Homo sapiens: one gene and its partners. The protein of the gene in region 3 interacts with the protein of the main gene of each other region in a biochemical or structural test. Each region holds a gene or a part of one and is shown on either strand. Other genes may lie near its edges. The genes, in order: MBNL1, CILK1, FBXO7, NFIA, PDE12, TEX29 and IRF3.

The links.
Region 1: of the proteins of FBXO7 (region 3) and MBNL1, one has a biochemical effect on the other in vitro, tested with the Homo sapiens proteins (one large-scale study listed by BioGRID).
Region 2: of the proteins of FBXO7 (region 3) and CILK1, one has a biochemical effect on the other in vitro, tested with the Homo sapiens proteins (one large-scale study listed by BioGRID).
Region 4: of the proteins of FBXO7 (region 3) and NFIA, one has a biochemical effect on the other in vitro, tested with the Homo sapiens proteins (one large-scale study listed by BioGRID).
Region 5: of the proteins of FBXO7 (region 3) and PDE12, one has a biochemical effect on the other in vitro, tested with the Homo sapiens proteins (one large-scale study listed by BioGRID).
Region 6: of the proteins of FBXO7 (region 3) and TEX29, one has a biochemical effect on the other in vitro, tested with the Homo sapiens proteins (one large-scale study listed by BioGRID).
Region 7: of the proteins of FBXO7 (region 3) and IRF3, one has a biochemical effect on the other in vitro, tested with the Homo sapiens proteins (one large-scale study listed by BioGRID).

What each region holds. Positions count from the first base shown.
Region 1 is NC_000003.12:152,439,426-152,443,428, reverse strand, and holds part of MBNL1 (muscleblind-like protein 1), read right to left. Parts: intron 1-4,003. UniProt on the Homo sapiens protein: Mediates pre-mRNA alternative splicing regulation. Acts either as activator or repressor of splicing on specific pre-mRNA targets. Inhibits cardiac troponin-T (TNNT2) pre-mRNA exon inclusion but induces insulin receptor (IR) pre-mRNA exon inclusion in muscle.
Region 2 is NC_000006.12:53,054,959-53,058,961, forward strand, and holds part of CILK1 (serine/threonine-protein kinase ICK), read right to left. Parts: intron 1-4,003.
Region 3 is NC_000022.11:32,477,308-32,481,310, reverse strand, and holds part of FBXO7 (F-box only protein 7), read right to left. Parts: intron 2,331-4,003; coding exon 2,036-2,330; intron 1-2,035. UniProt on the Homo sapiens protein: Substrate recognition component of a SCF (SKP1-CUL1-F-box protein) E3 ubiquitin-protein ligase complex which mediates the ubiquitination and subsequent proteasomal degradation of target proteins and plays a role in several biological processes such as cell cycle, cell proliferation, or maintenance of chromosome stability.
Region 4 is NC_000001.11:61,088,956-61,092,958, reverse strand, and holds part of NFIA (nuclear factor 1 A-type), read right to left. Parts: intron 1-4,003.
Region 5 is NC_000003.12:57,562,343-57,566,345, forward strand, and holds part of PDE12 (2',5'-phosphodiesterase 12 isoform 1 precursor), read left to right. Parts: 3' UTR 1-4,003. UniProt on the Homo sapiens protein: Enzyme that cleaves 2',5'-phosphodiester bond linking adenosines of the 5'-triphosphorylated oligoadenylates, triphosphorylated oligoadenylates referred as 2-5A modulates the 2-5A system. Degrades triphosphorylated 2-5A to produce AMP and ATP.
Region 6 is NC_000013.11:111,341,001-111,345,003, forward strand, and holds the end of TEX29 (testis-expressed protein 29), read left to right. Parts: intron 1-1,755; coding exon 1,756-1,931; intron 1,932-3,082; coding exon 3,083-3,123; 3' UTR 3,124-3,248; downstream 3,249-4,003.
Region 7 is NC_000019.10:49,658,856-49,663,144, forward strand, and holds the end of IRF3 (interferon regulatory factor 3), read right to left. Parts: intron 3,763-4,289; coding exon 3,570-3,762; intron 3,474-3,569; coding exon 3,093-3,473; exon of another isoform or gene 2,595-3,092; intron 1,990-2,594; coding exon of another isoform or gene 1,974-1,989; coding exon 1,858-1,973; intron 979-1,857; coding exon 793-978; coding exon of another isoform or gene 734-792; 3' UTR 717-733; downstream 1-716.

The DNA of each region.
Region 1 (4,003 bases), on a different chromosome or scaffold from region 3:
TATGTCAATGTAGGCATCACCAAACAGGAAACTTGCAGAAGGTCTATAAGTGATCTCTCTCAGCTGCTATTTGCTCCCTCAGTAATTCCTGCTTTCTTGAATATGCTCAAAATGAATTGGCAGCAGGGAACTAATACTCTACTTTTCCAATTTAGGTTACTCTTTGCCGCATTAACAAGAAAGAAGACTTGAATTTATTTAGGTTCTGTGTGTATGTATTTGCATGTGTGTGTGTGTGGGGGGGGGGGTTTCTACAGGTTAAGGATTGGTTTATTATAATTTCATGTTCTTTACTCTCCTGTGGAACATTTAGAAAGAATTCTAAAAATATTTAAGCAGACTTAATAACTAAGAATTAGCTCAGAATGTGTCATAAAACCAACCTTTTCTGAGGTTAAAAAAAACTTAGTCAACTGCTTTTGCATAATATGCATGTTTGACTCTTTCATATTTTTATTTTTTTTTACAGCTTACGGTTTCTCCTAAGAAATAGGACAGAAACATACTGTAATAGCTACTCTCACATTATTCTTGCTTGTGAAAAAATAAGGAAGAGAAAATCTCTTGTGAAAACTTGTACTGGTGAGAGTTACAGGCCAGTGGGACTGGAAATTTACCAAGCATTAGATATGCATCTGAATAGTGGGGTACCTATGGGAACATGAACTTCCCAAACCTTCTAAAACACATTTTCCCTAATAGACATCATCAATAAAATGGGATCTATCCCTTGGTTGCTCAATATGAGTTTGATCTGGTTTCTCTGATAAACTCAAGGACACTTTAGACTATGCTGATACCCAAAATAAATCTCTTAGACATACTATTACATTAGTAAATTATAACTGACAACATTTCACAAATTTAATCTCATAATTAAAAACAGGATAAGAAATTATAACATTTATCATACAGAGAATTTGAAACAGAATATAAAATTAAATCTGAAAATTCTAACAACACTGTGGTTCATTTTTCTCTTCTCATCCAGTCTTCTGTATGTATGCACACATTTTTAAAAATAATTGTAATTATAGTATAGCTATTATTTGGTGATCTTTTATGCTCAACAATGCAGCATAAGCATTTCTCATTTTGCTAAATAATTTCCAGAGTGAATACTTTTGATGGCTGCATCAAATTTCATCAAATAGTGTACATAATACAGGTAACTCTTTTGGAGGATATCTAGATAATTTCCAGTATTTCCATATTACAAGTAATATTCCAAGAATATATCCATGACTATAGGCATTTTTCATTATTTTTGGCAGATAAATGTACAGATTTATTGGTATATGTGTATGTACTGGGTCAACACATAAAAATATTTTCTGACTGGGCGCGGTGGCTCAAGCTGGTAATCCCAGTACTTTGGGAGGCTGAGGTGGGTGGATCACTTGAGGACAGGAGTTCGAGACCAGCCTGGCCAACATGGTGAAACCTCATCTCCACTAAAAATACAAAAATTAGCTGGGCATGGTGGCAGGCGCCTGTAATCCTAGCTACTCAGGAGGCTGAGGCACGAGAATTGCTTGAACCTGGGAAGTGGAGGTCGCAGTGAGCCAAGATCGTGCCACTGCACTCCAGCCTGGGCAACAGAGCAAGACTCTGTCACAAAAGAAAAAAAATATTGTTTGATAAATGGTTTTCAAACCTGCATTAAAACAATAAGATCTATTTAGCTACACATATAATGTGATTCAACATGAGCCTTTTACTTTACAAATACTAAGGCAAGATTTGACAATGAAGATATTCACTGAAAACATTTAAGTTCTATTTCCAGAAAAACATCTATGGAATAATTATAAACTTTAAATAATCAAAAGAAAACATAATCAGGAAAATTTCCCAAGAAAATGTAAATTAATTCTAAATAAACCTTCTTTTGTTAACTAAATAGCAATAATATAGCGGACAGACAATAGGGTTTGGAGTCAAAAATTGTGAGTTCCAGTTCCTATCACTTTACTAGCTAAGGAATCTTCACAATGAAAACACTATTAACATCTATTTAAAAGGTCATGAATACTGAATAAAATAATGCATAGCTTACAACACACCATACAAATCTGGATAATATGAATAATCCTGTCATTTGATCTCTAATTTTTTAATACATGAAAAACTATATTTCAAAATGGTCAAAATAACGTAAGTTTTATAAGTAGTATTAAACTCAGCAATGCTCTCAAGTTAAAGCACTGGGATTCTAAGGAGATTAATGTCAATATTTGAATTTATTCAAAAGTGGAGGGTCATTTGCATATTCTTTAAGGAGATATCCCTTTGAGGTAATATGTTTTGTGTTCACCATATTTGTATAATTAACTCAGTCATCTTGGAGAATAACAATCAAAAGCAGGAACAGAAAGCTAATTATAACAAGAAACAGGGACTTTGTCCATTTTAACATTTTGAGAAGTCAATTTAATAGTTAATGGCCAATATTAAGAAACGTATTCAAAGACATATAGCTACATGTTCACCAATAAGCAGCATGGACTTCACTTTCTATTAAGCTGGAACTAACAAGCTAAATTTTTCTAAGTATTACTTTAAAAAGTAATCCTAGATAATCACTTTGATCAATCACTTTGATCAAAGTGTCCACAGCATCGCTGATCATGAGTTTATAATTTAATGTAAAGAAATTATCTCTATTTTCATTTAAAAAGGATTAAAATATCTACTTTGTAATCCTCATAATTCTGGTGATTAGGTAAATGTAACTGTAGTCAATTTATTGTACAATTAAAATCCCTAGATAAATATCGGATGATGTGATTTCTAGTTTCAGTTGGTGATATGGTTTGGCTGTGTCCCCACCCAAACCTCATCTTGAATTCCCACATGTTGTGGGACAGACCCGGTGGGAGGTAATTGAATCATGGGGGCATATCTTTCCTGAGCTGTTCTTAAGATAGGGAATAAGTCTCATGACATCTGATGGTTTTAAAAGGGTTATGTCCCTGTGCAACCTTTTTTCTTGTCTGCCACCATGCAAAACGTGCTTTCCGCCTTCTGCCATGATTGTGAGGTCTCCCTAGCCATGTGGAACTGTAAGTCCAATAAACCTCTTTCTTTTCGTAAATTGCCCAGTCTTGGGTATGTCTTTATCAGCAGCGTGAAAATGGACTAATACATTTGGTTATTCAATAATTGTACATATTTGATCAATTTTTCTCCTTCCAAAAAAATTCAAGAAAAGGACACCTACTTTAGCTACCTCATAGTATTTCTGTTAGGATCAAATGGGAGCATTCTTTGAAGCCTAAAAGGCAGACTCCATCATTACTATTCAGGCCAGAAAACACAAGCATGCTTCTATAGGTAACAGAACTAAGAATCTACCACTTGATCTCTTATAAAAACATAAAATAAAATCTGAATAGGAATGACCAAAGACAGAACCATTAAATCCACTTCCACGTTGTCATTTATTCATTCCCATGAATGACTGTGCAAACCCAAGAGGACAGGAAAATAGACACAACTTTGAAACAAGCTTGTCAATACACCAAATTAGCCATTACCTTATTTCATTTATGTTATTATTATTATTATTATTACTACTTGAGATAGGGTCTCCCTCTGTCACTCAGTCTGGAGTGCAGTGGTGCAATCTCAGTTCACTGCAGCCTCAACCTCCCTGCTCAAGTGATCCTCCCACCTAAGTCTCTCAAGTAGCTGGGACTGCAGGTGTGAACCACTGTTCTTAATATAGCAATTACTATACTCTATACCATATCAAAACTCTAATCACATAGATTAATAATTGACAGAGCCATAGTGTATTAAATTGTTTAAATGAAGATGTGACTACATTTTTAAGAGCCATTCTAAAGTTTATTACAGATATAAAAAAACAACCTACATAAACCTCTATGTGAAAACTCTTAAGGTTTCTTGGCAATTTTCTGGAGATAGTAAAAAAAGTCACACAAGCAGTAGCCAAACATCCTCTACAAAAATGCAAAATTAAAATAATCCTACCGAT
Region 2 (4,003 bases), on a different chromosome or scaffold from region 3:
ATTTTGAAACCTTAATCAATGAATTAATGCCATCATTACACATTTTCTAAGACAGGAGACAAAAAGTTACAGCAAACTTGGGGTTCTCTGGGAGTTGTGGTTTACCAGGCCCACTGACACCATTCAGTTCCTTAGAAGGAGCTTGTCTCCCTTTGCATTAATTATCTTACATTGAAAAGATTCTGTTACTTTCATTTATCCTCCTAGGAAAAGTGGATTATATGCAAAATCATTAGATGACCCTTCTCATGGTAATTCTGAGTTCCATTTTACCTTTACAGGTTTATAATTAGACTTCGTATTCTAGGTTTGAATGTGTCCTAACTTTACAAAAGTCAGTGAATACTGTTAATTTCTTTTAAAAAGGTACTAGAAATAGTATATCCGGGTTTATGTTTTTCTCCTGGACCTAATTCTTCTGCCTCTGTACATTTTAGCAAGCAAACCTTTTAAGCATTTTGCCTCTTGGACTACTGCTTTTTTTCTGCATAAGGAATAGCAGTTACAAAGCCAAAAGGACCTTCTTTACATGGATCTTGCTTTGTCTTTACCTTGACAGAGGAGTGAATTAAAGATGCATTCAGCTATTGCATCAACTGGATGTTAACAAGAGAAGATAATCCGTTACATGATGTGCCTTCTTCTGTGCCCCAGAAACTTCTTCATACCTTTACCATCCCTCTCCTCTTTCAATCCCAGCTTCTGAAAAAAGAACTCGTCCTGCACTAGGTCCTTAATCCCATGAGAAGCTTCCATAACTCCCTGTCGCTTCTCTTACAATATAAAAGGTGCTCACGCCTTGAACCTTAAAAAAGTTCTTCAATCACTTGCAGATGATTTTTAAACTAGGACACATAGTTGGCTTTGGTGGACTGTAAAGAACTGAAGTAAAGGCGAAATGTTAAAAAAAATAAAAAATAAAAAAACAGCCAGAAAAACAAACCTTTACCCTGCCATGTGTGAAACTGTAGATGAGCTAGAACGAGAGTCCCCAGCTTAATGAAAACTGCCGAGGGTGGCAATAGTCCTGCTTGCCTGTGTTTCAGGGGTGGGCAAGATAAGGGATAGTGAAGATAGGGGAGTGACTAAGAGCATATCACAAGTTCATGTAGATAGTAACTTTCATGATACTGGCAAATAAGTAGCTGGACGTTACACAATAATACTTTACCTTTCTGGTTCTAACGCATTATCTTTTACGGTAGTTACAAGGACAGCCACATGTTATCAGTATTTATATGCTATTACAACACATTTGACTAAGGAGCTGATCTCAGTGTAAGATGCTTTGCTAGCATGTATACAAAAAATCAAAATGAATTAAAGGAAGTAAAGGCTTAATGTAAAAATAAAATAGGGCAGGGATAAGCACGTTTTTTCTGTGAAGGGTCAGTAAACAGGATAGGCTTTGCAGGCTCTCCATCTCCGTCACAACTCCACTCTGCCATTGTAGCATGAAAGCAGTCAAAGACAATATGTAAATACATGGGCATGGCTGTGTTCCAGTACAAATTTATTTACAAAAACAGGCAGCAGGAAGGACTGGCACACAAGCCATAGTTTGTCAAGCCCTGAAGATGAGGAAATCCCCCAAATAAGCAGAAGCACTTTAGTACTCTCCATAGAGCCCTCACTTACCCCTAGGTTACAGGGCTACATACAAGCTGTGTTTAACCTTAGAATATAAGCTCTGTGAGGTCAGAAACGTTGCAATATTCACAACTGTATTCCCAGTACTCAGTTCCCAGAGAACTGGCATAGTTGGCACAAGTACGGACTCACAATAAAGACATGTTCAATGAATTAACTAATGAATGAACAACTTATGGAGCTTTAAAAGGCAATCCTGACCATAGATGATTTTCCTATACTACCACGTCCACCCTCACTGTCATCCCGTCACGCCCCACTTCTTTGCAAACTGGACAACTGTACTGGGACTAGGGTACCAAAATTATGACTCCTTCTAAAAACTTTTACACTAATTTAGGAAAAAACTTGCTTTTCAACAGCTAAGATCACATGAAGGCATGTATATCTTACATTTTTCTTACTCCCCTTTGTCTTAGTTAAATCATTCTCTAGTAAATTCTCTTTCAAAGCAAAGGCAATGTCCAAGAGGGCAAAACCATTAATAACTATCTTTTGGGAACCACAAGTTCATGCAGATAGTAACTTTCATGATATTGCCAAATACGTATTTGGGCATTATACAATAGTACTTTCCTTTCCGGTTCTCAGGCATTATCTTTTATGGTAGTCAAAAGAGCAGTCACATGTTATCAATACTTTATCACAGGTCATGCTTCACCTATAGAAAGGTAAAAAATAACTCACACTGATCTCTCCTAAAAAAACGTGTGGTTCTCATAAGCTCTGGGCCATCGTTATACATTTATTAAGTGGCTACTAAGGGTTCTTGACATGGTGGGAAAAGCACCAAATGAAAAGCAAGGCACTATTGTGGCCCTTTCATTTCAAAAAAAGTGAGTTAGGATGACAATCATCTGCTAGGAACTACAAGTTCACGCAGATAGTTACTTTCATGATATTGTCAAATATAGTTGGACATCACACTTATAATACTTTATCTTTTGGTTCAGAGGCATTATCTTTTATAGCAGCCATGATGAGCTTATTTAAAGATAAAATATAACTGAATGCTAATTAACATAGATTTGAATGCTAAATTCATTAGGAACTATGTTCAAAGCCTAATGTTGAACAAACTTCAGACAATAGAGTTAAGAATTTTTTTTTTCTGTAAAGGACCTTAATGATCACTTGACATTCTCACTCTACAGATGAGATCCAACTAAGAAGAACAGAATACTTGCTATCTTCAGAGTAGAATATTTTGAAATGTGTGAGTATAATACATGTTTTATAGCCAACTAAAGATGTATCAAATGTTCCCCACGTGCTCCTTGGTAAAAAGCATATGAATATTTTGCTAATCCTGAGCCCATATAGTTTAAAAAAAGGGGGGAGCAGATGTTTGAAGATGTGCTATCCTCAAACTCAAACATGACTTCACATGTCAACATATGTTGGATTTGATTTCAGCCTGCTCAGGTAAGTCCCACGACAAGACACTCTTCCTACCCAGGAAGACTTCAACTTTCAAAGCACAGAGAGTCAGGTACTTAATGTGCAAAGATAGTTCAGTTTCCTTGGAAGAAAATCAGGAATAGAAGCCTTCTGTTTGGGTTGAGTGTTTCCCTAAAACCTGTTGAGTAGTAGTTTTTCCTAATATTGGACAGCAGTTAACTAGGAGCAGACAGATTGAATGAAGATGCCCATATCAACCTTGGTTACCACCTTGAGGTAGGCCTGAGCTGCTGCTTTTACTTCTTTGGCTGCAATCAAAGGCATCTCTGATTTTCTTCCTGCCACAACATTTCCTTAGCATTTTAATGCAATTTGCCCCAGAAAATGATTTGTTTCACCAAATTCTTTTTACTAGGTAATTTTCTAGAACACATGTGCTTTTATAAGGAAGTTAAAACTGTATTTCAAAGGTAAGCACAACCACAAACTAAGACACAATTACACTGTAATCCCAAAACGTGTATAAGTCATCCGGCACACACACACCTCTGTTTGCGCATTCTCCCTGATTCAACCACATCAACCATAAACACTGAGGTTCACAGATAGGAGAGTTCTAATACTCTAAACATAGGCCCTTCTCAGAAAGCCACAGTCATCAAAGACCACAGGTGAAAGACAACAGTTAAATGAGATACTATTCACAGGCTTTCAGATCAACATACACAGAGAGGTCATTATATCCAGAATTCTCCCAAGGAACCACCAGGCAAATACACACACTCACATAGATCCCACAAGCAGAAAAATGCATTTTATAAGGGCAGACATCAATAGAACGGCTAGGTACCACTCCAACTCTGCAAGATCCTACAAAATGAAATGGAGGAGACTGCTGCAAGAGGAGCAGTATAAAAAAAAAAAATTAAGCAGTAGTGTTCCTGGCAAGGTT
Region 3 (4,003 bases):
TAATTTAAATATACAGCGAAATATTCTTACTCATTCCCCAGTTTACCTCTATGAGGCAGAAACACACAGATAAAACAATAACTTTAAAAATAAATTAAAATCCACATATCTGGACATAATTTTCACAATTTACCAATCTATTAAAAAGTATTTTTTAATATGTCTATACTTAATGCCATGACAAGTTACCATGAATACTTATACTCAAAAATGTTTAAGGCCAGCAATTAAATTGAGGTGATAAGCATACATACAAAAACCAATTAACAAGAAGGCATGTGTATTGGTATTAAAAAAATAAAGGTGATCATTTGCACCATTCAAAAAATTAAAAGGGCGGATAAAGGCCAGGCACGGTGGCTCACATCTGTAATCCCATTACTTTGGGTGGCCAAGGTGGGCAGGTCACTTGAGGTCAGGAGTTCAAGACCAGCCTGAGCAACATGGTGAAACCCCATCTCTACCAAAAATACAAAAATTAGCCAGGCGTGGTGGTGTCTGTGGTCCCAACTACTCGGGAGGCTGAGGTGGGAGAATCGCTTGACCCCGGAAGGGTAGGGTTGCAGTGAGCTGAGATTGTGCCACTGCACTCCAGCCTGGGTGAGGGAGTGGGATCCTGTCACCAAAAAAAAAAAAGGTGGGAAAAATGAGGAGGCATGTACAAGGCAATAAAGATAATCAGATAATCAATACAAAGAAATTAAAGAAAACTATTGGGCTATGGTTGGCAAGGGCTTAGGAAGATGGGTAGAAATATAGACTAGAGAGGGAGGAAAGGTAACAGGTTCCAGTCTGGGTGAACAGCAAGAGCAAAGTCACAAAAGTAGTCACCAGGTTGTGTGTGTGCACATGCATGCAAGCAGGTGAATGTGCTGGTTGGTGGGGGCGGGGGAAAATGATGGGTCTGTTCTGATTGGAGATGACAGTTTAAAGGAAGGAAGAACAGAAACTAGCCCTAAAAAAGTTGAGTGGAGTAACTTTTCAGAAAGCCTTGAGCACTAGGTACAGGAGGACAGACACCATTTTCCTCTTCTGTAAAATGACAGGGTTGAACTAGAGATATATTGTCTTTTTCAGCTCAAAAATTATGAGCACAAGTTTATGAGATAGAGTTATGAAAGACAGCAAGGGAACAATAGCATCAGAACCATGTAGGAAGAAGGCAAATCCAGAAAACAGACTGAGGAATAAAGCCATGGAACCCGAAATGGAAAAGAAGAACTGACAAAGCTTATTAATGGGCTAGATTTAAGGAGTCAAAAATCACAGAAAACCAGCAGTGCCACTGACAAAGAAGGGAACTGAGCACACATATTTCCAAATTTATGTTCAACATCTAAAGTCTGCAATGACAATTTAAAATCCAGGTATAAATATCCTGCAAGTCATCTGGAAATAATTAGACCACATCTATAGCCTTAATGAGCGGACCAGATCAGAGAAGCAAGGCTAGGAATCATGAGCTTAGGAACAATAATAGAAGTCAAGGAATAACTGATCTGAAGGAGAGTATGTGAACAAAACAGACAGACACTAGGTACTTTGGGATGCCAGCCCCATATTGGTACAGGCATTTGGCAGTTAAAAAAAATATATTCTATAAAAATATAATCTGCAGCCAGGCGCAGTGGCTCATGCCTGTAATCCCAGCACTTTGGGAGGCCGAGGAGGGCAGATCACGAGGTCAAGAGATCGAGACCATCCTGACCAACATGCTGAAACCCCGTCTCTACTAAAAATACAAAAATTAGCTGGGCGTGGTGGTGTGCACCTCTAGTCCCAGCTACTCGGGAGGCTGAGGCAGGAGAATCGCTTGAACTGGGAGGCAGAGGTTGCAGTGAGCAGAGATTGCGCCACTGCACTCCAGCCTGGTGACAGAGTGAGACTCTGTCTCAAAAAAAAAAAAAAAGAAAAAAATATATATAAAATGTGCAATCTATCGATGATAATTATCCTGACTGGAACAGAATTCAACTGAGGTGTTCAATATGACTTATCACCTACTCTATTTGATATATTGGTGTTTAATACCCACCATACTGTCGTCATTCCAAACACCAGACTGGGCTGCCTGTCCTTGGAATGAATCACTTGGTTGTTCATCCTGCATGCTAGTCTGATTGGAGCTGGTGGCCAAAGAGGGTTGCTCATTATTCTGGAGTGAAGAATGCTCTGAATCTGTGGATGAAGGTATATTAGGCGCTGGAATGTCATCTTGAAGAATCAAACATATCAAGTCCCCAGAAACAATCCCATATGAAGCCAAGGTCTCTTCATCTCCAGTGAGGGGATCCTTGTAGTTCAATGTAATTGTAAATCGGGTATTAGAACTGCCAAGAAAGACAGATAAGCATAGTAAGAACTACCTACTTCTAATACCTTCAATAGCACATCTGAAGCATACATAAGTACACAGTATGACCCTAGAAGAACTAAGTGATGAAGAGACAAGGTCTCACTATGTTGTCCAGGCTGGTCTCAAGCTCCTGGCCTCAAGCAATCCTCCTGCCTCAGCCTCCTGGGTTGCTGGGATTACAGGTATAAGCCACCATGTCCAGCTACATTTTTGTTTTTGTTTTCGTTTGTTTTTAGAGACAGAGTCTCACTCTGTTGCCCAGGCTGGAGTGAAGTGGCACAATCACAGCTCATGGCAGCCTCAAATTCCTGGGCTCAAGCAATCCTCTCACCTCAGCCTCCAGAGGAGCTAGGACTATAGGCACGCATTACCCTATCAAGCTTATAGTTTTGAGAAAATTATCAAAAGTATTTATCAATGAATGCCTAATCTATAGATTTCTAATGGCTAAAACTCTCCACCTGGGGGACGGGATACAGTAATCCTCTATCACTAATCCATGCTTTCCTCAATTCTAAGATGCACAAATTTTTTTTGACATCTTTGAAATTAAGATACTTCCTAAAATCAATGACATATCAATTGACAGCATTTTCCCCTGCTGTTACATAAAACAATATGTCTTACAAGTGACAGCAACTAAGATTCAGTGAAATACCTTTAAAATACAAATTAGATCACATCATTCCTTCACTTAAAATCTTCCAATAGCTTCTATTTGGAATCCTTAACCTAACTTCCAAAGCTCAACGTCTGACCTCTTCCCATTTCTCCTACTGCATCCTGTGCCATCCATCCTCTCTCACTGTTCTCTATTCACATGAGCTTTCCATCCGTTCCAAAAAGCAGATCAACTTCATTGCAGCCTTCGGGCCTCTCCGTTTGTTCTTCCAGATCTTCAAATGACTGACTCCTCTTCATCATTCCAGTCTCAGCCCAAATGTCACCTCTTCAGAGATGCCTTTCATTCAGACTCCAGCGCTCTCTATTCTGTTATGTTCTACTTGAAAACATCGTATTTACTTGTCTATGATCTGTCTACCCTACCTCTGCCACTACAACTTAAGTTTCATAAGATCAGCGATCTTGTCTGAACAGTTCAAACCATATCTTCAACACTGGCAAATAAAGTACTTGTGAAATAAATGCAACCACCAAACACTAGTTGGGAAGATCAAGAGATGAGCGTGAAATCAAGGATGTCTATTCAATATCCTTACAGGACAGTTTACTTATAATGGTTCCGAAAAACCAGATCCATATATTCATAATCACAAAAAGTTAGAGGAGTATTATGTATATGACTGAGTATAAATTCATCTCTCTTACTGATGATGACAAGCTAAATTCACCCTTCTACTGATCATCAGTTATGATGCCTTTTAGTGGAACATAGCGCAAACCCAAAAGCCCACGTTAAACAAGCTCAGAATTCAAATAAGCCCGGAAGCAACAAACTCCCATTCTTTCTGCATCACAGATTATTTGACATTAGAAGAATAAAATGTTTTTCATCACACAGTGGTGAGGAACAATAACAAAACATTATAAAACATTTTTAAAAACATTTACACTCAGCAATGCTAATTTCATTACTTTTTTGAGAGGTTAACAAAAGATGAAGTCCTTTAAAAATTATATTGTTTA
Region 4 (4,003 bases), on a different chromosome or scaffold from region 3:
TCAAAAAAGAAATCATTCCCATTGCTCAAACAGCACTCTGTGCAGCCTGGATGTGCACGCACATGCACACGAAGCACACACACGCCCCTACACAGACACTCCTAATCTTACACCTGCTCTGAAGCAGTAGGAAGTGAATTCTCAATCTGTCAACATGACCATCTGGTCTATCTGCATATCACGGCTTTCTCTATTACTATATGAAGGAATGGCAATCACGAAGCCAAAATAAAACTAAAATGCACCTGAATGGGAGTAGCTCTCTTTTGGCTGAAATGGAATAATATGAGGTACAGCAGAACAAAACTAGCAAGAATCTAAATAATTTGAAATGAGCATTCATGTCAGCATAATTAAGTGAACAATATGGTACAGGTAATGTGGTAATCAGTAATACTGTTGAGTAGGTTTATAGGACAGGTATCAGGCTTCCGAGACACTGAAACAGCTCCTTCAGTGATTGAAAGGATCTTTGCTATTCCTGATGCAAGCAAAATTAAGTAAAGGTAATAATGGTAGCAGCATGGAAGCAATCAGTAACTACTGCACTAAAAGATTACCGTGCAAAAGTGTTCTCTTTCTACCTTAAAACTAACAAGTACTCATACTGCTGCCATTAGGACAACAGCAACTTGCTTTGTCACTGGCTAATTAACAATTAAAGCAATTACCTGACAAATTGTGGTCACTTATTAATCTTTCAAACTGAATTTTAAGACTGCTAAAAATACTTCTAATGTTAGAAAATTCCTCATCTGCAAAAAGTGAAGATGGCTCACTGTGATTTAGCTTTTAGGCCTAATGTCACTTGAAAATTAGCAAAGGCCTTAGTTGAATTAAACATAAATTAATTTGTTTAATTTTAGATTTTAAATGTCCCCACACAGCTGCCTCCAAGCTTTTATTCTACCCCATGGCAGGTAATAATATCAAATATAAATTGTGAAACTGTCATTCTATGGCCTAAAAATAGCAACCTGCCTCTATCCAAGAAATGAGTCCTTAAAAAGTATAACCTTTCACAAAATCTAACTAATTTGACTGAGAATCTTTCTAGAATCTGATTACATTACCAGAAGTTTATACAGAAGTGGTTAAAAAAAAAAAAACAACAACTCTCCAGAAACTTCTCGGTTGAGTGCCTACTAATGAACAAAGGTTAACTTTATCTAAAAGGTCAAATGCCTGGTGGCTAAGGTTATGACCTTAACAACTTAAATTGTGACCTTGCCACGTGCCGGGTATATTGTAGATTCTGATACAGATCATCTGGTAAAGACTGGTCATAAATTAGCTTTACTGTTACACACCCACAAAGAAAACCATTTGCCACAATACCATAGTATCCCCAAGTTGTCATATGATACATGGGAAGGACAACTCAAATTGAGACCAAATTAAGGGCATAAAATGGTTTTGTTCTTTTAACAAGATGAAATTCTCAGGCTTATGAAATCACTCCAATTTCATTACACTTGTTACTGCTTATCAGCCACAAAATTCACAGTTCTAATGCCACTGGATTTAGAGGGAAAAAACTGGAATGTAGTTTATGTATTATATTTTAGCATGTCAATAAGTCTTAGAATAAATCACCTCCGCTTTAAAAAAAAAAAGATTGATTCTGCATTTGCTTCTAGTATTCTCACGTATGTTCTGAGATTTCAACTTCCTACCAAAGAAAGGTGGACACATAAAGCAAGAATTATTACACACAAATTTCAGAAGGAAAAGAAGATCTAATTTCTATGACCATCTAGGGGGAAAAAAAGGCATTCTGGAAAGGAAAAAAATATAACAATTTAAAAGAAAGAGCGAGAAAAAACGCATTATAGGTGAAAAGGCCACAATGGTTTTGGCATGTATCTTGAAGCACGTTTCAGAGTCTCTGCCTCCTGCCAATACTGGCAAGTTCTCAAAACTTTTAAGGAGGTAAAAACATTGTTTAGTGTTTACAAATCTTCAGTATTATAACAGATGCTTGTCAAATCAGTTGTATGTAAGTTGACCGATCTACCTCATATTTGTATTGGCAGCTTCCCTTCCACAAATAACAGGTCTCTGAATCTCTTAAATCAAATTTGAAATATTTTCAGACAAAAGACCCTTAATATTTTCTTTTACAGTCTTCCTGTTGCGCGCACAGAGAAGCAGCCATTACTGCGGTCCCGTGAAAACCAATGGCCAAACATTTGGCTGGCATTCAGGCATAACAAGGGATTCTGGGATACATCAGGAAAACCAAACCGAAGAGTAGTCTGATCTATGCTGCTGTCAATAAATCTTTCATAAGCAATAAGGATGCTAACTCTCCTAAGTAACCTTCTAAATGTCATTTTACCAACATAACCCCTTCAGGCATTGCAACAACCAACAACTGTGTTAGTTCAAGGATTGGGAGCAATAGCACAGTAACAAACCAACGACGAAAAAGAAGGCACGTAATGAGAACAGCGAAAAGATTGCATTTCTTTAAATAACAGAGAAATGTTTAAGACGAAAACTTAGAATGGACACTGCTTACACCGACAAAAACTTCACAGGTATTTCATTTTGATGTTATCTTATATGGAAGCACACATCATGATCTGCATCACCTGTTGGCACTTTCAAGTTTCGATGTTGGTCATCTATTCGGGATAATTTATAGGTTATATTTTTCTAAATATCTAAAAGGTAAAAACAAGATTTTAAAGAGTGCTTCTTGAAAGCACCTGTAACACCTATACTTTTTTTGCGTTTTGCTGTGCTTAACATATGCAGACACATTTTTTAAAAATTTTAACTTTACTTTTTCAGTAAACAAAACAAATGAACAACAACAGGGTTAAGAGTGGGTTAAAAAAGGGCTACTTATTCCTGCTTAGAGGTCACTTGAGAGGTGCTGACTTTTCATTCTTGCTACCCAGAATTGGCTAAAGCAAAAGGCAATTCTTATAATTAAGTATACATTTTTGAAAACCCAAATATTTGAAACACTTACAGCTCACATCCTCTAAAATACTCATCTATCCCCTGCCAACAGAATGCAAATGATGATGTGACATGCTTGCAAAGCTAATTTCTCCAGTTTCTTATGTAAGGGCAGATGGATAACAAAAGTTCTCTTTCTAAAACATATATTGAGAAAAATAATAGAGAACAGGCTATCAGCTGGCTTCTTTAAAAACTCACTAACATTTTTAGAATTAAAAATGTTTTGAAGAAAAGTGCAGTGTTTTTACAGGTAACATCTCTCCTTTGTAAAAAAAAAAAAAAAAAAAGAAAAAAAAACGTTAAATATTTGAACCCCAAAACAACCTACTGGTAGGATTCCACAACCCTCTTTCTTCCATCTGGCTCAAGTAACTGCCATGAAGGTAATCTAGCAAGACCGATATGTACATATATAAAGTCAACAAGTTACACAAGACCTGAGCGTTCACATAGCACAATGAGCCTTTTGTCTAAAACAAGACGAAAGGAACAAAGTAAAAATGCATTATTTTATCCAGTCCTCAATAGTTTTATCCTGCATGCTATTCTAAACACTGAAACATGCACAGGTAAGACATGCCTTGAAAAAACAGAAAAAAAATTTAAGATTTTACAATCAAAGCAACTCACTACATCAATTATCAATAGCAATTTTTCAATGTGTTCATGCAATATACAGGTTGGTTATTTTTAATATTAACCTCTCCATCAATTACTGAAAGAGCTGGTTTGTTTCCCTTAGCTATCTGAGACAACACTAAGAATTCCTAAATACAAAGCTACTAAGTCTGCGTATTAATGTGATTATTTTTCCTTCCTAAATGATCAGCAATTTGATAGTAATCTACCTCCAACTTCTTAATTGGCAAGGGGTTCAAGAGGCCTCAGTAGGTTAAAAACACTCCCAGCAGAAAACCAACTAAAAATATTGCCTCAATACCAAAATAAATGCTTTTAAACTAGATCATTTGTCAGTTAAAATATACTCTTTATTAAAAGGGTTTTCACGAGGCTTCTCTCATCCCCT
Region 5 (4,003 bases), on a different chromosome or scaffold from region 3:
TTCACATTATTAGGACATGGAATGTTATTGTGAAGTGCCATATACTGTGATCAAATCTCCAGTATACGGATACGTTAAAATGATTGGAGTCCAAAGGTAGGGAACACTAAGAAAATGTATAAATAGCATACACATTTCTTTGTACTCATGAGTTAGAATGCAGTGTTATTCAGAAATGTCTGTTTAAAGCACCTATGTGATTGCATTTTTCTATTACATTTGGATTTTTTAGTACATTTAATTTTAAGAAAACATGGGAAATCTAGCGACTTTCTATGGTAAACCACATTTTATAATGTCACAAGTTCTTGCTATAGGAATTAACATTCTAGAATTTTATATTGATTATAAAAGAGTATTTCAGAACATATTATTCTGTTAAAATGAACTCTTGCACAGTTGCCGCTACAGCAAATGTGTCTGCCAATAATCAAAATTCATGAGCAAACAATCGTTTCTGGCTGTAATGTATGTTCTTTTTGAAATTCTGTATGCTAAAATCAGTTGTTTCAAAATTTCAAGAATTCCACTGAGTAGTGATTTTTCTGAGTACTAAGCTATGATCTCATCAGAATGTGCTGGTTTCAGTCTGGAGATAGATTTCTGAGGAGCCTAATACAAGGGAGAGAATGTCCAAAGAACACTACTGTGGAAAGTTCTTACGATGGAAATTGACATCTTTTGTATCTCATTCTCCAGCCGTGAAATAAAGGCAGAGGTTCCCTGCAAACTAGTTTGGTTGGGATAAATCCAATATTTATATATAATGAAAAATAAAAGTTTGCATTATTAGTTTATCACAAGACCCATGTGACAACTCAGAAAATATTCTCAGCATAATTTTTTTAAGAGATAGAGTCTCACTGTTACCCAGGCTGGAGTGCAGTGGTGCAGTCATAACTTACTACAGCCTCAAACTGCGGGGCTCAAATGATCCTCCTGCCTCAGCGTCCCAAGTAGTTGAGATTACAAGCCCAACCTTCCATAACTGAAAACTAACTTTCTTTTTTTCTTTTTTTATTATTATACTTTAAGTTCTAGTGTACATGTGCCCAACGTGCAGATTTGTTACATAGGTATACATGTGCCATGTTGGTTTGCTGCACCCGTTAACTCGTCATTTACATTAGGTATTTCTCCTAATGCTATCCCTCCCCCAGCCCTGAAAATGAATTTTTTAAACACAAATAAAAAATATTTCAGTGTTTTGAGAATTTTAATAATTTGCTTAATATAGTACAGGAAGGCAACACTATCTAGAGGGCCAGGCATAGTGGCTCTTGACTGTAATCACAACATTTTGGGAGGCTGAGGCAGGAGGATCACTTGAGCTGAGGAGTTCAAGACCAGCCTTGGCAACATTGTGAGACCCTATCTCTGCAAAAAATAAAATTAACCAGGCATGGTGGTGCATGCCTGTAGTCCCAGCTGCTCAGGAGGCTGAGGCCAGAGGATCACTTGAGCCCATGAGGTCAAGCCTGCAGTGAGTTGTGATCAAGGTGCGCTGCACTCCAGCCTGGGTAATAGAGCAAGACCCTGTCTTCAAAAAACCACTCTAGATTTCATGTTGTAGGGGGTAGGGAGGACAATTTTTAACAGCTTTAACTGACATGGGTAATATATAAGTTCTGTGTTCTCACTTTATATGAAAGTACTTTTTTAAATGTTAAAAATACTAGAGCTGTATTAACTTCGTGATTTTATTTTTCTTCTTAGCACTAACTTCAAAATAACCATACAGTACTGCTTGTAATTTTTGTATTTTTAGTAGAGACAGGGTTTCACCATATTGGCCAGGCTGGTCTTGAACTCCTGAACTCAAGTGATCTGCCTGCCTCAGCCTCTGAAAGTGCTGGGATTACAGGCATGAGCCACGGTACCCGGCCTAAATTTTAATTTTATATATAAATGGCAAAATAATCTTAAATATAGTAAATCTGTTCACCTATCTGCTATGCTAGCAAATTCTGGGTTGTCAAAAATCCATGTTCATACTGTCAGTGTTAGATTTTTACTCATAATTTAAAATTTCCCCGCAAAATTTCACAGAAAACTGAATTATTCATCTCTATCTTCTGTCCAATTTATGTAATGAATGTATGTCAAAGCATTTATATAACACAGTCCATTTTGCCCAGTAATTCACTTTAATGATGTTATCATGAAGTATTGATGTACTTTTTTTTTAGTGTATTGAAGTATTCCTAGGTTGCATTTGTGCTAGTTTCATACCATTTGTGTTCCTTATATATTGAAGATGGTTCAGTAGGGGAAATGGATAGGCTTTATTTAGTTGGCTTTCTTATACTGGATAATATAAACACTTTTTTTTTCTTTTTTGAGACAGGGTCTGGCTTTGTCACCCAGGCTTGGAGGGCACTGGTGCCATCACGGCTTACTGCAACCTCCACCTCCTGGGCTTATGCAATCCTCCCACCACAGCCTCCCCAAATAGCTGGGACTACAGGTGCGCACCGCCACACCTGGCTAATTTTTGTATATTTTATAGGCAAAAAAAAAAAAAAAAATGGTTTCACCATGTTGCCCAGGCTGGTCTTGAAATTCTCAGTTCAAGCAGTCCACCCACCTCGGCCTCCCAAAGTGCTGATATTACAGACATGAGCCACCCCACCCAGTCAGCACACATTTTTTTTTTTTTTAAATAAGACAGGGTGTTGCTGTTGCCCAGGCTGGAGCGCAGTGGCATGATCATAGCTCACTGCAGCATCAAACTCCAGGGCTTAAGCGATCCTCCCACCTCAGCCTCCTGAGTAGCTGGGACTATAGGTGCATGCCACCATGCCTGGCTAATTTTTTAAATTGTTTGTAGAGATGGGGGTCTCTCTATGTTGCCCAGACTGGTCTTAAACTCCTGGGCTCAAATGACTCTCCCGCTTCAGCCTCCCAAAGTACTGGGATTATAGGTGTGAGCCAGCACACATAGCCCTTTTTTTAAAAAAATTAAAAACAAATTTTTTCTCCAGAAAAAAACATATTTATCAACTTTTAAAAACATTTTATGGGTACATAGTAGGTGTATATATTTATGTGGGACATATTTCTTTTGATAGAGTAAATTGAGTATTCATCACATCAAGCATTCATTTGTGTTACGAACATTCCAATTGTACTCTCTCAGTTATTCTAAAATGTGATATACACACTTTTAAAAGGATTTATTGCGCTGGGCGCGGTGGCTCACGCCTGTAATCCCAGCACTCTGGGAGGCTGAGGCCGGTGGATCATGAGGTCAGATCGAGACCATCCTGGCCAACATGGTGAAACCCTGTCTCTACTAAAAATACAAAAATTAGCTGGGCATGGTGGCGCGCGCCTGTAGTCTCAGCTGCTTGGGGAGGCTGAGGCAGGAGAATCACTTGAACCCGGGAGGCAGAGGTTGCAGTGAGCCGAGATCACGCCATTGCACTCCAGCCTGGCAACAAAGCGGGACTCTGTCTCAAAAATAAAATAAAATAAAATTTTAAAAAAAGGATTTATTGCATATAATTCTTATATCCCCTGTGGAATAGTTTGGAGAAATGGTACATCCAAAGATAAAATCAGTTAGAAATAAACAGTGGCCTTCCTCAGAAAAGCTGGGCTATAGTGTTTTGGGTATCTTAAACCAAGAAAGGGTATTTCTATCCCAGCTGTAGAGTTTTTAATAATTCTATTATAAATAATGGAATCAGGCCAGCACAGTGGCTCACGTCACATAATCCCACTCTCCTTAAGAGCTTTTTTTGTCACTGCATATCAACTCAGTTGACAAGGACTGGCCCCCAAAAGAAGCTGCATACTCACTTGGCAGTCACTCCCCATTCTCCCTAGCTCCTGGCAACAACTTAACCTGTCTCTGTGGATTTGCCTATTCTGGACATTTCATATAAATTGAATCATAATTTATGTAGTCTTTTGTGACTGGCTTCTTTTACTTAGGATGTTTTTAAGGTTCTTACTGTTGTAGGATGTATCAGGAGTTTGTTTTTATGATGAATGTTCC
Region 6 (4,003 bases), on a different chromosome or scaffold from region 3:
CCGTGTTTAGTGAGCACCTGTGCTTGTTGATGAAAATCATAACCCGTGTTTAGTGAGCACCTGTGCTTGTTGATGAAAATCATAACCCCTGTTTAGTGAGCACCTGTGCTTGTTGATGAAAATCATAACCCGTGTTTAGTGAGCACCTGTGCTTGTTGATGAAAATCATAACCCGTGTTTAGTGAGCACCTGTGCTTGTTGATGAACATCATAACCCGTGTTTAGTGAGCACCTGTGCTTGTTGATGAACATCATAACCCGTGTTTAGTGAGCACCTGTGCTTGTTGATGAACATCATAACCCGTGTTTAGTGAGCACCTGTGCTTGTTGATGAACATCATAACCCATGTTTAGTGAGCACCTGTGCTTGTTGATGAAAATCATAACCCGTGTTTAGTGAGCACCTGTGCTTGTTGATGAAAATCATAACCCGTGTTTAGTGAGCACCTGTGCTTGTTGATGAAAATCATAACCCGTGTTTAGTGAGCACCTGTGCTTGTTGATGAAAATCATAACCCGTGTTTAGTGAGCACCTGTGCTTGTTGATGAAAATCATAACCCGTGTTTAGTGAGCACCTGTGCTTGTTGATGAAAATCATAACCCGTGTTTAGTGAGCACCTGTGCTTGTTGATGAAAATCATAACCCGTGTTTAGTGAGCACCTGTGCTTGTTGATGAAAATCATAACCCGTGTTTAGTGAGCACCTGTGCTTGTTGATGAAAATCATAACCCGTGTTTAGTGAGCACCTGTGCTTGTTGATGAACATCATAACCCGTGTTTAGTGAGCACCTAAGACTCTTAAGAGCTCTGCTCAGCCTTTTCAGCCCTTGAAGCCACTGACGATGTAAGTGAACTTACTGTCCCCGGACTGGGATGATTGACGCAGCATCGAGGGGGTCCCGAGGCTGATGGATGGGGCAGTGAGGCTCTAACTCAGGCTCCCAGTTGTCTCAGAGTCCCTGAACCCAAGGCTGCCTGCATCTCTTGGCCTGTGGCCTGCGTCCTCATTGCAGGGTGTCAGGGTTTGGAGGTGTCTCAGAGATGAGTCCACTCCCTCTCATTTTAATGGTGAGGAAATGCAGACCCGGGGGGCCAAGGAAGCAGGTGGCTATTCCCAGGGCAGGGCTGGAATCCAGCATCTCACTCCCCGGCCACCACCTTCACCATGAGCCCACTCTGTGTGCATACAAGCCCCTGAGATTATTTGAGTCTCTTTGTCCAGGAATGAGTAAAGCCATTTTCCTACCATGAGTGGTGCTGTATGCTGTCTTATGTGTGTTAATCATGAAGATGAGCCGGCAGTAGCCTGCAGTGCAACACACACCTTCCCCCTGCCCGGAGCTGTCTTTGGGAGTCTAGCTGCCTCATACAGCCATCTGTTTGGAGCCTGCACAAGAAACTAAAATGAGGCTGGATGTGGTGGCTCATACTTGTAATCTCCCAGCACTTTGGGAGGCTGAGGTGGGAGGATTACTTGAGCCCGGGAGTTGGAGGCTGCAGTGAGCCGTGTTTGTGCCATTGCACTCCAGCCTGGATGACAGATCAAAACTGTCTCAAAAAAAAAAAAAAAAAAAAGAGAGAGAGAAAGAAACGAAAATGAGAACTATTACATCAAAGCATTTACCTTAAAAAATAAGTATGCATGATCAGGAACCTGTGTTTTCAGAGGGATGTCCTGGTGGGTGGGAGGGAGGAACTGGAGAGTTTTCCATCTGTAACTTCCCTGACTGTGATAAAACCCTCTTCCCATCAGAGTCATTCAGGAGAGCAGGAAAGAAAAGGCCATCCCTGTGGATGTCGCGCTGCCACAGAAGTCCAGCGAAAAGGCGGAGTTGGCCTCATCCAGCAGCAAGTTAGGGCTGAAGCCTGCGAGTCCTGGGCCTCCAAGTGCTGGGCCCTCGATGAAGAGTGACGAGGATAAGGATGATGGTGAGAAGCTTCTGGAATGATCCTCAGCCTAAGGTCAAGGGCGTGGCTCTGTTCCCTCGGGAGACCTTCCCTGGGAAGGGGCTCAACATCTACACAGGCCCTTCAACCTCAGTGATCAGTGTTGCAGTTTGTTCAAAATTGTAATGTACCCAACATTGGAGGTTCAGGTTTGCAGGGTGGATGTGGCTGTCAGTGTGAGTTTCCTTCTGTGAGTCTTGTCCTCCCCCTTCCCATCCCCTTTTGCCTCCCTGTCATTTCACCCTCTGGCGGGGCCCTCATTGTTAGTGTGGGAAGCTCCTGGGGAGGGGGCAAGAGTCCTGCAGAAACTGCACATTTGATCAGGTGACTTCCTGTGGGGAGGCTGCAGGGCTGCCATGGGTACTCTCTGTGGCACCCTGGCCACGTGGTGGTCTTGGTTGTGCAGGGAGGCTGCCAGGCTGCTGTGGGTATTCTCTGTGGTGCCCTGGCCGCCTGGTGGTCGTGGATGTGCGGGGAGGCTGCAGGGCTGCTGTGGGTACTCTTTGTGGTGCCCTGGCCACGTGGTGGTCGTGGTTGGAGAGGTGGACGATCACTCTATGCCTGCTTCGGTTTCCAGGAAGGAAAGTTTCTCATATGTTGGTTTACCTGCTTTGGGGGCCCTTGGAGGTTGCCGGTTGCTTTTCCTAGATCAGCACCTTGCCAGGTTAGAGAAAGAAACATCTCAAATGGTAATCCTTATCTTCAGAGATGTTTGTACAGGATACAAACGGCCTGGCCTTACCCATTGTTACCAAATAGACTTGGCTTTACAGGGACCATCAGGAAAATCAGGAGGCAGGGTAAGAGGGCAACCCACACTTGATTTCAGATCTGGAATGCCTGGCCCCTAACTGAGGCTGCGTCTGTGCAAATGAGGCTTTCCTGCAGGACAGATGTTTGCCTGGTTAAGGGAGCCTCCTGTGTAGAGAGATGATGTGGGAGGAAGAGTGTTTTACTGTCCCCTAGAATGCAATGAGAAACATAGGAGGATACGGCCATCCCCAAAACTGGCTTTTGAATCAATCATTGCCAATCAGACACCATGTAGATGGGTTCAAAGATCCTGATGAAATCTTTTCGGGACTGCTGAATATTCCATTTGAAAAAACAATTCTTCTTTTCTAAAAATCTAGTAACAGGGACAATAACAGAAGCCGAAGAAACTGAGGACTGACTGAGACGCATGAAGAAGTGGAGATTGTCAGAATTATCCAAATGAAATGGTACAGCAGGTGCACTGTTAACAGTGTGATGGAATGACCACCCAAAGAGAAAAAAATAAAGGTATTTTGAAAATTGCTTCTCGTCCGATGTTGCTTATTCATTGCTATATTTTTATCTTAGGAGAGAGAAAGCCTGTGGGGTAGGAGAGTGGGAACCTGAACTTTCAGTTTTTAATGGCACTGCTTGTCACTAATATTAACACTATGGGGGCTCACAGCATGGGCTCAAGGTGGTGTCCTCGAGGTCTTCTTTTCAGAAGGCAGGCTGCACTTTCACCAAGAGTGGGCTGCCACACAGACACAGGCGGTTCAAGACTCTGGCATTTGGCTTTGCTAGGACTCAGCCGTGCTGCGAGGGAGGAGCAGCGTCTGGATCTGGATCTGAGAGGCCCCAAAGCATAGGCCGTAGCTGCCTGAGAGCCCCTCATGCAAGGCAGTGCGCTCAGTCCCAGAGTGGCCGACAGATGCTCACAGGCACGCGCAGGCCGGCCCAGGGCAGCCCACGGATCTTGGAGGCTCCGTTTTCTCACCTCAAAAATATGCATTCTACCCAGGAACTGTGGCCCTTATGTCCATGCATTGCAGCTTTAAGAAAGGATAATAAACAATCCAGATAGACCAGACGCATCCTGCTCCAAGGATTATTTAGATGAGAAATCAGTTTGCGTGAGCCCCTGGAAGCCCCTCGTCTGCTTTCTGGCTGGTAAACCTTGTCAGCTGCTCATGGGCTTGGCCCAGCGTCTGCACTGCTCTAGGGCTTCCTGCAGGGGGAGGTTATGGGCCTGCTGTTAGCCTCTTTCTGCTCACGGGCACTGACTGGCTGGCCTTAGG
Region 7 (4,289 bases), on a different chromosome or scaffold from region 3:
GGAGCGAGCTGCTCACAGGGAGGCAGGGGCCGGACCCCACCTGATCAGCATCTTCCCAGCTCGGCTCCTGGGTGCCATGTGCCTGCCTTGGAATTGCTCCCAGAGCAGGATCTGTGTTCCCCATTGAGTTGGCTTCTCTTTTCAGCAGCCCCGTGAAGCTGGGGTGATCTCATCAACTGTCCTGAGAGGGAAACTGAGGCACAGAGCAGCAAGGGCCGAAGGGTGAGTCAGGGCTGCGCTGGCTTCTGCCAGTTTCATCACCCAGAACTGCGGCCCAACCAGGAGAGGTGACAGTGCCCAGGGTCACCAGGCAGGCAGGCTTTGCAGGCTCCAGGGTGGCCGCAGAGCCCCTTTACCAAGACCCCTCCAGCCCCACGTGGAGGGGAGCCTGAGGCCTGGAAGGAGAAGGACCACTTGCCCAAACTGTTCATAGGCAAGGCAGGGGGCCTGGGTTCTGGCTAGTCTTTGTGTTTCCTACTCTGTGACCTTTGCGCCTCTCCCAGCCTGTGTCTTGGTCTACAACACGGGGACAGCCATCACCCACCAGGTCCCTGGGCAGAAGTGAGGAGGTGTCAGCTGCCCCCTGCAGTGCTTGGTCTTCATGCATTGAGCACCTGAGTTGTATATAGCTGCACAGATGGGTAAACTGAGACCCTGAGCGGGAATAACAACCATATTGGGTCAGAGGGCACCCAACACCAGACACGCACAAGTGATCATAGCAGGAACCAGTTTATTGGTTGAGGTGGTGGGGAACAGGGGGGTTGGAGGCACACCATGAGGAGCGAGGGCTCAGCTCTCCCCAGGGCCCTGGAAATCCATGCCCTCCACCAAGTCCTGCAGGTAGGCCTTGTACTGGTCGGAGGTGAGGGAGAGTGGGTGGCTGTTGGAAATGTGCAGGTCCACAGTATTCTCCAGGGAGGAGGCACCCCCTACCCGGGCCATTTCTACCAAGGCCCTGAGGCACGTGGGCACAACCTGCAGGGGAAGTGGGGACAGGAGTCAGGGAAAACACCCAGCCACTGTCCACCAAGGTAGGAGTCAGGGCTTGGAGGACTACAACTCCCTGCAGCCCCTGCTGTAACCTAGGATGAACCATAGGCCTAGGGCTGCTGGGAGTTGTAGTTTTACACACACACACACACACACACACACACACACACACACACACACCCCCTGCTGTAACTGAACCATAGGCCTAGGGCTGCTGGGAGTTGTAGTTTTACACACACACACAAACACACACACACACACACGTCAGGGCTGAGCAGTCTGTGATCTTGACTCCTGGGAGCCACAGCCATGGCCTCACAATGGCAGCTAAAACTTGAGTCCACCAGCTTCTACATGGTTTAGAGCAGGGGTCCCCAACCCCCCTACGGCTTGTTAGGGACCAGGTTGCACAGCAGGATGTGAGCAGCGGGTGGGGGAATATTACTGCCTGAGCTCTGCCTTCTGTGAGATCAGCGGCAGCATTAGATTCTCAGAGGAGCACAAACTCTATCGAACTGCGCACGTGAGGGATCGGCTGCTCCTTAAGAGAATCTAATGCCTGATGATCTGCAGTGGAGCAGTTTCATCCCGAAACCACACCTCCCTGTCCGTGGAAATATTATCTTCCATGAGACTGGTCCCTGGTGCCAAATAGTTTGGGGGCCACTGGTTTAGAGAGTTCAAAACAGGTTCTGCAGGTGAGGCCATGGGAAGGAGCTCCCGGGGATGAAAAACTGGTTATTGCAGAGATCTTGGAAGTTGCAGTTTTTTAGAGGGCCCTCTGGGAGTTGGAGTTCCTGGGAGCAACCTCTTCCCTCTGTAAGGCCACCCCTTTCAGCCCCAGGGACTCAGGTCTGCAGGCACCTTGACCATCACGAGCCTCTTGGTCCACGGCTGGTCCTGGGGCCATGACTCCCCCACACAGAACCAGAGGGCATAGCGTGGTGAGCGTCCGCTTCCTTCCGTGAAGGTAATCAGATCTGGGGGCCCAGGAGCCTAGTCAGGGATGAGAAGAGGACCCTCTACCCACCCTTCCCCGTAAACTTGAATGATAACCCCCACCACCTCCCCTGACCTAAGGCCCTCTGCTGCCTCGACCAGGGGACTGCTTGTTTGGGGAAAGTCCCCTCCTTCCCTCCCTCCCTCCCTCCCATCAGGGTGGGGTTGTTGGAAGGCCACACCCCCAAGCCCCCAAGCCTCAGCATTCATAACAGGCCCAGAGTAGGGGGCCCATGCTCCCAAGGATGCTCAGTGAATCTGGAGAAGCTGGTTGGCATTCAGTCCTGTCTGAGGCTGCATTGTCCAATTGCAGCCATTAGTCATGTAAGGTTATTTCAGTTTAAATTGTAACCAATTAAAACGAATCACGTCCTGGTTGCACTCGCCTCACCTGAGTGCTTGGCCCCTGTGGCTAGTGGCTGCTGCACCGGACAGTGCAGGTGACTGTCATTTCCATCATGGCAGAAAGTGCCACTGCACAGCGAAACCCTAAGGGATGTAGCTTTCCTGCTATTGGTCTGTTCACCATCATTAGTTACGATGATGATGACAGTGGCAGCTAATTCCCTGAGCAGGCTCTGTGTACTGGGCCTGTGTCTCACCCCAGCGCTGGCAGGCAGGTAGAGAGAGGAGACCATCCTTGGATTCCACGGGCTCAGGGCAAAGTCCTTTGCCTCGGTTATACAGCGGGCCAAGGGCAGCCAGCGTCTGAATTCAGTCCTAATCATGAGTTCTTTTTTTTTTGTTGTTCGAGATGGAGTCTTACTCTGTCACCAGGCTAGAGTGCAGTGGTGCGATCTCAGCTCACTGCAATCTCCGCCTCCTGGGTTCAAGCAATTCTCCTGCCTCAGCCTCCCGAGTAGCTGGGATTACAGGCACGTGCCACCACGCCCGACTATTTTTTTGTATCTTTAGTAGAGATGGGGTTTCACTATGTTGACCAGGCTGGTCTCGAACTCCTGAACTTGTCATCTGCCCACCTCAGCCTCCCAAAGTGCTGGGACTACAGGCGTGAGCCACCGTGCCCGGCCAATCCTGAGTTGTTAACCACTGTGCAGGCTGCTTTGTACTGGCCAGGTCGAAGCCCCTGTCTCACTCACCTACAATGAAGGGCCCCAGGTCAAACACGCCTCCTTCCTTGTCCTTGGGGACCTCGCCATCAGGCCCATGCCCGCTGTTGGGGAGCAGCTCCTCGCTCACTGCCCAGTATGTGTGGCAGTGCCCCAGCCGCTGGGCCCAGAGCCACTGCCCGGCCCGCCAGAGAGCCAGTCCCCCACCCAGGCAGCTCAGCACATGCCTCACGTAGCTCATCACTCCCCTGTCTGTCAGGGACATGCCAGGGTCTGGCAGTGTGACTGGCCATCCAGGCAGCGTCCTGTCTCCCACTTCGGACCCCACCAGCCGCAGGCCCTCCGGGCAGGAGATGGTCTGCTGGAAGACTTGGCGGCCCCGGTAGAAGGCTGTCACCTCGAACTCCCACTCTGAGCAGCGGCAGCAGCGGCATGAAGGGGAGAGGGGTTGAGAATCAGGGGCTGCCGCCCAGACCTCAGCCCTCCCAGCCTGCAGCTGACACTCACCTTCCCCCGGCACCAACAGCCGCTTCAGTGGGTTCTCAGAGGGCCCCAGGTTTGGGAAGGGAGTGGGATTGTCCAAGCTGGGGCTCCGCAGGGGCTGAGGGCAGGGCTCAGGGGCTACAGCCAGGCTTGGGGGTCCCGGATCTGGGAGTGGGGCCAACACCATGTTACCCAGTAACTCATCCAGAATGTCTTCCTGGAGGGAAACAAAAAAAGAGAATCAGGCATTTCCATATCCTTTTCTGGAGACTTCATATGGACCAGGTCTGTTCTCAGCAACGCAGGGAGGTCAGGCTTGAGCTCTGCCTTCAAGGGGCTTCCAGCCTGGGGACAGAGCCAGCCATGGCATCAACAGCCAAACAAACACTAATGAACGCCAGGTGCTACCATTCCAACCCAAGGATCTGGCTCTATGCAGGTAAGACCTGGGCAAAGCAGGCTGGGTAGAATTTCAGAGGGGATGCTCCCCCAGCTTGGGCCTCAGCAGGATCAAGGTGAGGGAGTTTTTCAGTTCCCAAGAGGCTGACAGCCCCCTGCGAATCGAAATCCATGAAATCCCGGGAAGGTGTGCTCGGGCCTTGAATGCTGGGTGAAGACTTGGAATTTTCTCCTGAGGAGACCGGGGCAGGGACAGACAGGGTCAGCACTGGCTCAGGTGAGGGGCAGGCTGGAGGCAGGGGAGTGGGGGGATCGTCTAGAGGGAGAGGACAAGGCCCATGGAGA